2 separate regions of the Homo sapiens genome follow, and region 1 is linked to region 2. Evidence: fine-mapped expression QTL. A gene starts in region 2. The other region holds a variant in brackets. All regions are shown on one strand. Distances are between the middles of the regions.

Region 1 (5,385 bases), 22 kb before region 2:
CACTCATAGTTTTTTGAGGTGGAATAAGAAATGTGGGCTGAATAAAAGTAGACATGTCTTCACGGGTAATTATTACTTGACTGAAATGTCTCTTCTTTAGAGATAATATTTTGGTCTCACACATTGATTCCAGATCTGAAAGAAAATACAAAGGCAAATAAATTTTCCTATTCTGGGCAAGTTAAAACTTCTAAAAAAGAAATGGGAGAATTAAACTGAAAAGAATATCTGAGAAATTACACAGTTTTCAAAGGTGGAGAGGCAATCTGTAAAACTGACAAGAAAAGCACAGACATTAGGAGAGGTAATAAAAGAAGCTGAGGATGTGGATTCAGAAAGTAGATGACCTCTATGATCCTCAAATTTTGGTCTGAACCAGAGTCACCTTAAGCCTTGGTGAATACACAGTGTTCAGCACCATCCTCCATATTATAGAGAGATTCTAATTAAAAAAAAAAAATTTTTTTTGCCCCCACCCCAGATCCCCCACAGGCGCTGCCTGAGACCCAGCTCTGTGTCTCCTCGTCGTACAGCTTGTGGAGCTCCGACTGCAAGGCCATCAGCATGCCCAGGCAGGGGTTAAGCTGGAGGGCCATGGAGGAGGACAGGCCAGCAGGATGCCGCTTCTGCTCCAGGGCATGCACCATGCGTGAGATATTCTAATTATATACACGTTCATAAACATATGCTCACATGCACAGAGTATGATACTGTATGTTTTGCAATTCGTAGATAACTGTCAGACCTACATGAAAGGACTGTTAAGAATAACAAATGTGTTGAAAGGTTTAAATGTCGGGGGCGGGTGGAGTTCAGTGACTGTGCAATGGTATACTGGCAAATCACCAGCCTCCGACAAATCTAATATGCTGAACACAACTGGTGGGAAGAGTAGACAGGTACATCTCTTCTGTGCATACAGCATGATATGGGCTAGGAACTCACTGAAAATAATTTGCTCTGGAATTCTGTGATGTTGACCTTGGGAGAAAGAAATGAATAATTCAAGTCATAGCAGTGATTGAGAAGGAAGGTGGCTCAAGTTTGAGACACAAGAGAGTTAAGATAGGATGAAATGTACTCTATGAGAAGAATGGAACTCCATGTCAACATATAAACAGTGAGCCCCAGTTCTATGCTTTAAGGCAACCTCTGAGCCCTCTTTTCCTTGTTTATTAAAATGGGACTGACACTTAACTTATGATTGCTAAAAAGATGAGGAATAACGTATATAAATAATCTGATATAAAGTAAGCACTCAGTATTGGTAGCTATTATTATGAAAAAATGTCATAGCAAAAACAGATATTGGGCAAATAAAATGGCTTGAAGACATCAAAATAAAGCCAGCTAGACTATCTTAAGTATTCCCTCCACACAATCATTGGCCAAACTTAGTCTGGGTGAGTCCCTAAAAATCTCTTAAAGTTGTCCTCATTTAATTACTGAATCCCCTCTTTCCTAGACCACTACAGGAATCTCCTAATGGTTTCCCCAGTATGTTCTAGCACCCTCTAATCCATTCAGCACCTGGTGTGATATTTGGTCTCACTTTGCCCTCCTGAAAATCTAAACTCCTTGGTAATTACCAAGAAGACTCCAATAATGAGGCTCTTGCCTACCTCTACAACCTTGTGTTATACTCCACTTCCACTTGCTCAAGAAGCCCCAGTCCTTCAAGCACCTCAAGTTCTCCCTGCCCCTCAGGGCCTTCCCACATGGATCTCCCCTTTACCTGGCATACCCCTCATCCTATCACCATTGTTGGCCCTGCTAACAATGAGAAAAGCCTCATCACAGCTTCCACTAACAACCAAGCCCTAAGCCACTGAGGAACTCACAGACACTGCTGACACTGATTGCAGCCAGAGAAATCATATGGAGATTATACCACTGCATCCACCTATAACAAAGCCAAAGCAACCTACCCAACCAACACTATAAATACATCTACAGGAAAAAGGTTTTCCTTATGAAAACAAATCCATAAAATTGGAAAAAATGACCATAACAAGAAATACACAGATATCAATGTAAGGATAAAAGAAACACGAAAAAGCATGGAACCATGACATCTCCAAAGTAATACAATAATGCTCCAGCAACAGATTCCAACAAACAAGAAATCTATCAAGTGCCTGAAAAAGAATTCAAAATAATGATATTAAAGAAGCTCAGTGGGAAACAATAGAACATGGATAAAAACCAAAAGAATCAGAAAAAACAATTCATGATCTGAATGAGAAATTCAGCAGATAGATATCATGAAAAAGAACCAAACAGAAGTCCTGAAACTGACAAATTTCAATGAATGAAATAAAAAACACAATTGAGAGCTTCAACAATAGACTAGATCAAGCAGAAGAAAGAATTTCTGAACTTGAGGACAGGGTTTTTTAAAAGAATCCAGGAAGAAAAAGTAAAAAATAATAATTTTTAAAACTGAAAAAAGCTTAGATGACATATGGGACATCATAAAGCAACCAAATATTCAAATTTTGGGTATTCTAGGAGAAGAGATGGGCAAAGGCATAAAAACCTATTTAACAAAATAACTGAAAACTTTCCAAGTCTTGTAAGCAATATAGACATCCTGATACAGAAGGCTCAATGATGCCCAAATAGATTCAATCCAAAAAGGTTTTCCAAGGCCCATTACAGTCAAACTGTCAAAAGTCAAAGACAGAGAATTCTAAAAAAAGCAAGAGAAAGGCATCAAGTCACATATAAGGGAACCCTCAGGCGTCAAGTCACATACAAGGGAACCCTCATCAGAACTAGTAGCAGATACCTTGGCAGAAACCTTCCATGCCAGGAAAGAATGGGATGATATATTCAAAGTGCTAAAAAAACACTGTCAGCCAAGAATACTGTACCTAGCAAAGCCATCCTTCAAAAATGAAGGAGAAAGTTTTTCCCAGAGAAAATGTATCACAACTAGGGTGGCCCGATCAAAAATGGCAAAGGGTGTC[C/T]TACATCTGGAAGTAAAAGACATATCTACCATCATTAAACAAATGAAAATAAGAAGCTCACTGGTAGAGCAGATACACAAATGGAAAGAGAAAGGACTCAGATGTAACCATTACATAAAACCACCAAACCAAATGATAAGAGGAAAGAAAAAGGATATAAAACAACCATAAAAAATTAACAGATTAGGAATAAATCCTCACCTATTAATAATAACCTTGAATGTAAACAGTCAAATTCCCCACTTAAAAGATACAGTCTGGTTGAATGGATAAAATAAATATGACTCACCTATATACTGGCTGTGAGAAACTCACTTTATATATAAAATCATAGACTGAAAGTGAAGAGATGAAAAAAAAATACTGCACACAAACAAACCAAAAGCAAGTGAGAGTAGCCATACTTAAATAAAACAGACATTAAGTAAAAAACTGCAAAAGAAGCAAAGAAGGTCATTATATAATGATAAATGGGTCAATTCAGCCAGAGGATATAAAGTTCTAAATTTATAGGCACTCAACACTGCAGCACCCAGATATATAAGCAAATATTATTAGATCTAAAAAGAGAGATAGGGCTGGGCATGGTGGCTCATGCCTGTAATCCCAACACTTTGGGAGGCCAAGGCGGGAGGATCACTTGAGGTCAGGAGTTCGAGACCAGCCTTCCCAACATGACGAAACCCTGTCTCTACTAAAAATACAAAAATTAGCTGGGTGTGGCCAGGCGCGGTGGCTCATGCCTGTAATCCCAGCACTTTGGGAGGCTGAGGCAGGCAGATCACGAGGTCAGGAGATTGAGACCATCCTGGCTAACATGGTGAAACCTCGTCTCTACTAAAAATACAAAAAATTAGCCAGGCATGGTGGCAGGCACCTGTAGTCCCACCTACTCGGGAGGCTGAGGCAGGAGAATGGTGTGAACCTGGGAGACGGAGCCTGAAGTGAGCCGGGTTCGCACCACTGCACTCCAGCTTGGGTGACAGAGCAAGACTGTCAAAAAAAAAAAAAGAAAGAAAAAAAAATTAGCTGGGCGTGGTGGCATGCACCTGTAATCCGAGCTACTCAGGAGGCTGAGGCAGGAGAATTGCTTGAACCTGGGAGGCAGAGGTTGCAGTGAGCCAATATTGTGCCACTGCACTCCAGCCTGGGCGACGGAACTAGACTCTGTCTCAAAAAAACAACAACAAAAAAAGGTAGACTCCCATAAAATAATAGTACGGGATTTGAACATCCCACTCTCAGCATTAGACAGTTCATCTAGATAGAAAATCAACAGCTTTGGATTTAAACTGGATATTAGACCAAATGGACCTACCAGACACTAACTGAACATTTTATCCAACAGCTGCAGAATACACATTGTTCCTATCAGCACATGGAACATCCTCCAGGAAGAGACCATACGTTAGGCCATAAGACAAGTTATAACTAATTTTTAAAAATTGAAATCATATCAAGTATCTTCTCAGACTACACTAGAATAAAACTAGAAATCAATAACAAAAACTTTGTAAACCACACAAATAAATGGAAATTTAAACAATGTGCTTGCTCATGAATGCCCATTGGGTCAATTAAGAAATTAAAGATCATCAAAGACTACTACAGGCAACTATATGCTAACAAATCAGATAACCTAGAGGAAACAGAAAAATTCCTGGATACATGAAAACCTACCAAGACTGAACCAGGAAGAAACAGAGCAGAAGAACCTGAGCAGACCAATAACGAGTAATGAGATTGAAGCAATAGTAAAATGTCTCCCAACAAAAAAAGCCCAAGACTAAAGGGCTTTACTGCTGAATCCTACCAAAATTACAAATAACTAACCTCAGTTTTTCTCAAACTATTCCAAAAAATGGAAGAGAAGTTAATTCTTCCTAATCCATTCTACAAGGCCAGCATTACCCTGATACCAAAACCAGAGAAGGACACAACAACAACAACAAAAAGAGGTGATATCCCTCATGAACATAGACACAAAACCCCTCAATGAAATACTAGCAAATGAAATCCAATAATACAACAACAAGATAATATACAACGATTAAGTGAGATTTTTCCTGAAAAGTGCAAGGATGGCTCAACATAAGCAAATCAATAAACATGATGTATCAGATCAACAGGATGAGGGATAAAAACCATATGATCAGCTCAATAGATGCAGAGAAACATCTGATAAACTTCAACGTCTCTTCATTATAAAAACCTCTCAACGATTAGGCATTAAAAAACATAACATAATAAAGACCATATATGACAAACGTACAGCTAACACCATACTGAATGGGGAAAAGCCGAAAGCTTTTCCTCTAAGAACTGGAACAAGATAAAGAAGCCCACATTCACCACTATTATTCAATATAGTACTGGAAGTCCTATCCAGAGCAATCAGGCAAGAGAAAGAAAT
Region 2 (5,385 bases):
TTGATAAACTCAGCTTTTTAAAAATTAGAACTTATCATAAAATCATCTTACAGGAAATGATGAAATAGTCCAAATAGTAGGAAAACAATCAATAAAGGACTGAGATCCAGATTACATAAATAACTCATACGAATCAATAAGAGCTATTCCAAGAGAAAAATGAGTAAAGATTTGAACTGACATGTCACAAAAGATGACTAAAAACCAATAAACATATGGAATATGTTCAATTTTATTATTAATCACGGAAACCCAAATTCAAACCTGTGGGGGTGGGCGGGTATAAGTACAGATATATATTCAAATGAGGATTTAAAAGTCTGGCATGTCTGATTTGTATATCATAGTTTTTGCAAACATCAAAAATGTATTTCCCAAGACCATTTGATGACATGGGAGAATATTTCTGACACTTCTTTTTGCAAAAATGTAGAACATCAAATGGTAAATGAAATAAAATTTGGTTTTTGACAAATAATGAAAATACATTAAAATATTAACCCTAGTTATCTGAGTGGCTAAATTTTATTTTTTCTTGGTAATGCTGTGTTTTTGAGATCTCTAAATTAATCATCCTTTTATTTTTAAATCAGAATAAATATTTGAGAAGAAAATTCAGCAAGCATAAGTGGAGCAACCATCCTTTTCTGTGATGGGAAAATTATAGGGACCTATAATTAAATGACATTCCTTTAAGCAAGAATTTTCAGAAGAAAAAGAGGAAACCCCAACACACCTTGGATACTGCTTGTAGAAGTTCATCATGCATTCTTTCCTCCTCTTCTGGGTGACACCTGGAGAAAGGTAAAATTGGGAGAGGGAAGAGTAACTGTGAGACACCAGGTTTTTCTTGGTACCCAGATTAGTCAAGTAAGAGTTCTTCCCCAGCCCCATTACCCACCACACATGAGGAATGGAGATCAGAGGAGAATGGGGCATTCTGTCCAATTCCAGTGGCTCAGGGGAAAGGTTGTGTTCACTGCTGTCCAGGGTTGGAATCTGACCAGACCTCAGAGAGGTTTCCTAGAGACAGAGTTCTGGAGTCACAATCGCATAGTTGACAGGACCCCATACTCATACACAGAATGCCACATACATTTAGGGACAGTCACACTTAAGGCGACATGCACGTCTCACCTGCCCACAAGGAGCCACACACGGCAACACAGTTACAATCACATACACACCATAGGAAACACACAATTACAGCTGCACAATCGTAGGCACCCCACACTGTCGCAGAGTCACAATCACACATCACCACGGGAACACACAGCCACAACCCCCACAGTGACAGGTATCCCATATCCGCACATAAGCCGCAGTGTTATTATCTCCCAGACAATTTCACAACCTCCCCTCTTTTTTTGGGGGGGTGGGGTGGGGTGGGGACAGAGTCTTGCCCTGTCGCCAGGCTGGAGTGCAGTGGTGCGATCTCGGCTCACTGCAACCTCCGCCTCCCGGGTTCAAGTGATTCTCCTGCCTCAGCCTGCGAGTAGCTGGGATTACAGGCGCGCGCCACCATGCCTAGCTAATTTTTGTATTTTTAGTAGAGATGGGGTTTCACCATGTTGGCCAGGATGGTCTCGATCTCTTGACCTCGTGATCCTCCTGCCTCGGCCTCCCAAACACAACCTCCACCTTTCAGGCCGCTCCGCCCGCAGGGGCCCAAGGCGCCAGCTCCCCATCGGTCTTCGGTATCCTCACCTAAGCCCTTTCCAGTCATCCCGGATGGGAACTTGCAGACCTGAGCCAGTTCTCCTGGGGACCAAAATATCTCACCTCCCAGATCTAAGGGTCCCGCCAGGAGTGACGAAACGTTCGAATTCCTGCGAGAAAAGTGGCAGGCCACCAGGCCCTCTGGGAAATGTAGTCCAGAGCGGGACCCACGCCGATTCCTGTCAGCTCCTCGCCTGGGCCCACCCGAAACGGCTGCTCCCTCAACTCTCAACATCCAGCCGAGCCTCGGAGTTGCGGGTCGCCGTAGCGCTGCGCAATGGAGATGAGCCTCCCGGGGAACCCGGCCCAAGCCTCACCCTCACACAGGAAAGCAGATGTGTTCTGGCCGGAAGTTGAGTGGGGCCGCGGGGCCTGCTGGGAGGTGTTGTCCTCGGAAACGTCGCTGGCGCGGAGGGATGGTTCGGCGCTTTAGGCGTCTGTCACAGACCTATCTGCGGGTCGCCTTCACCCAGCATCTCAGAAACTGCGCGCGGGATGAACATTCGGGTGTTTCCGGCAGGTGACGCTGCCGAGTCCCCGCAGCAGGGGGCGAGCAAGGGACTCGCGGTTGACGGGACACGGATCCTCTAAGGCCCAGAGTGTCCCGAGTAGCGGCAGTGGGGAGTGCTCAGGGTACGCTAATGGTGAGTGGTTGCAGTTGATGGGACAAAAAACTGTGATGGGAGTTAGTGTGGGTGTGTGGTTGTGTGTGTGAGTGTGACGGCACGAATAATCTGATGGGGTGATTGTGATATTTGGTTGCGCGGGATTATGATGAAATGTGTGATATGTGTGTGATTATGATTAAGGCTGTAGCGAGTGTGAACGTGGCGAAGTGTGCGTGATTGTAATATGTCTAGTAGTTCTTGTCTTGAGCTGGCTTTTCTGTAGCATTTGGCACAGTTGGTAACGGCTTGAAAAACACTTATTTGTTTTCTACTGATCCTCCCTCCTTGTTGGCCACTCCTCTGTAGTCTTCTTTGCTGTCTTTTTTACCCTAGTAGCCCTTGGCCCTTTGTAATTTTCCACTATTCCTTGGCGAACTTTTCAGGTTCATTATTATCTTATGACTTGCTGCTTTTATGTATGTTAGTTAGCTATTGCCATGATAATAATTATGTCTAAAAACCACCCCTGAACTCAATGCCATACAACAGCAAGTCCTTACTCTCCTGTTCACAGGCTTGCGCATTGACTGTGTTCAGCTGATCTAGGTGGGGCTTGGCTGAGTGGATAGGCTGCGTGACGAGTTAAGATCTGCGCCGCATGTGTTCTTTCAGGGTCTCAGGCCAAAAGGACATTTGTTGCCAGGGCATGCTCTGCTCCTGATGGGTCACCAGAGCGCAAGAGAGATTGCCTCAACCAGAGCAAGTCACATGGCTAAGCCTAAAATCAATTATGCCCACAGTTGGAGAGCAAAGTTACCTCGCAAAGAGTATGAATAATAATCTATTAGAGGGTGTGAGGAATTGGACTAAAATTCCAGTCTACCACCTTAAGAAACATACCTCTTTATCCTGGTGAATGCCTTTTAGTCCGGGTTCTCTTTTGTCTGATAATATTGCTTTTCAAGTTTTATTGTATTTCTTAAGAATTTCATTTTCTAACCCCCTTGTGTCTTTATGTTTCAGATCTGTGTCTTGTAAAGAGCATATTGCTGGGCTTACATCCGTTTATCTTGTTTGACTGTTATTTTAATAGGTGAGTATAGTTCAGTGGCATTTATCATGATTGCTCATAAAAAATGTTTTATTTTCTATTACGCCTTAAACATTTTTGATTGACATATAATAGTTGCACATATATCTTTTTTTATTGTGCAAATTCACCTTATCCCTTTTTCTCCCCTAGGTTGGTTTCTGCTATTATCCTTTTTTAATATGCATGCTTAACAAAACTCAACCTTAAGACTTTAAAATACTTGAACTCCAAAATATCCACCAATTTCTGTGTTATTCTTGTCTCATATATTATTTTCTTCTAGTTTTTGTTGTTGTTGTTGTTTTGTTTTGTTTTTTTGAGACGGAGTCTCGCTCTGTCACCCAGGCTGGAGTGCAGTGGCACGGTCTCGGCTCACTGCAAACTCCGCCTCCCGAGTTCAAGCGATTCTCCTGCCTCAGCCTCCCGAGTAGCTGGGACTACAGACGCGCCACCACGCCCGGCTGATTTTTTGTATTTTTAGCAGAGACAGGGTTTCACCATGTTAGCCACCATGGTAGATCTCCTGACCTCGTGATTTGCCGACCTCAGCCTCCCAAAGTGCTGGGATTACAGGCGTAAGCCACCATGCCCAGCCTATTCTCTTCTAGTTTTAAATCCCCAAATTAGTAGTAGTAGCTCATTTATTCTATATACAGTTCGTATCCAGGAGGGGTTGGTTTCAAGACCCCCCATGGATACCAGAATCCACAGATGCTCAAGTCCCTACATCCTTCTTTATACATTAAATCATCTCTAGATTATTTGTAATACCTAATATAATGTAAATGCTGTGTAAATCATTGTTACACGTTATTGTTTAGGGAATAATGAGAAAAAAATCTGTACTGTACGTGTTCAGTACAGACACAACTGTAGTAGGCCTAACTGTATTTTTTATCTGAGGCTGATTGAATCTGAGGATGCAGAACCTGTGGATAAGGAGGACCAACTATGTATACACACATGTATATTTAATTGTGGTAAAATACACAACATAGAATTTACCATCTAAACCATATATAAGTGTACAGTTCAGTGGCATGAAGTACATTCACATTGTTATGGTACCGTCACCACCATCCAGCCAGAGAACTCTTCTTCTTGCAAAACAGAAACCCAGTACCTATCAAACAATAACTCTGTACCCCCCTTTCCCCCGGCCTATGGCATCTACCATTCTACTTTCTGTCTCTGAATTTGACTATTCTAAATACTTCATATAAGCAGAATCATATGTTGTTTGTGCTTTTGTGACCCTGATTTAACTTAGCATAACGTCCTCAAGATTCATCCATGTTAGCATGTATTGGAATTTCCTCCTTTTTTAAGGCCGAATGATAAGTATGTCATATATGGATAAATATTTTGTTTATCAATTTATTCATCATTGGACACTTGGGCTGCTTCTACCTTTTGGCAATTGCAAGTGACACTGCTACAAACATGGGTATACAACTATCTGAGTCCCTGCTTTCAGTTTTTTATATATACATGTGGTAATGTCTGTTTTTAATCTTTGATTGTCATAGTGTTTTCGATAATGACTGAACCATTTTATCAGCATATTTTTGAGCACCTACTATGAATATCAAAAACAGACAAAAATAAGTCCTTGTTTTCATGGAGTTTATGTTGAGGGGGGTGGGTGGACAGTATATATAACTAAATTATAGTCATGTGCCATATATGTATGGACTATATACATACATGACAGTGGTCCTGTAAGACAGTGGTCCCCAGCCTTTTTGGCACCAGGGAGTGGTTTTGTGGAAGACAATTTTTCCAGGGACTGGGGGATGGGAGGGTTATGGTTTCAGGATGAAACTGTTGTCCCTCAAATCATGAGGCATTAGATTCCTATAAGGAGCAAGCAACCTATATCCCTCGCATGCACAGTTCAGAAGAGGGTTCACACTCCTGTAAGGCTGTAATGCCACCACTAATCTGATAGAAGGTGGAGCTCAG

Evidence for each region. PIP is the estimated chance that this variant, and not a neighbour inherited with it, causes the effect.
Region 1: its variant is fine-mapped to the expression of ZNF568 in sigmoid colon (GTEx, PIP 0.95).

The regions. Positions count from the first base shown.
Region 1 is chr19:36,892,337-36,897,721 of GRCh38, forward strand. It overlaps ZNF829 (zinc finger protein 829), which reads right to left. Exons shown (of 6, transcript NM_001037232.4): 6 at 1-135. It also overlaps a transcript of ZNF345 not described here. Among named protein-coding and RNA genes, the nearest start is that of ZNF829, 21 kb to the right of the region's middle. RefSeq lists an enhancer at 1-290. The variant C/T (reference allele first, on the strand shown) is at 2,973.
Region 2 is chr19:36,914,229-36,919,613 of GRCh38, forward strand. It overlaps ZNF568 (zinc finger protein 568), which reads left to right and starts at 2,104. Exons shown (of 7, transcript NM_198539.4): 1 at 2,104-2,363; 2 at 3,351-3,420. ZNF829 (zinc finger protein 829) reads right to left here and starts at 2,063. Exons shown (of 6, transcript NM_001037232.4): 1 at 1,783-2,063; 2 at 902-1,023; 3 at 737-794. The coding sequence starts at 939. RefSeq lists enhancers at 1,699-1,748, 1,809-2,188.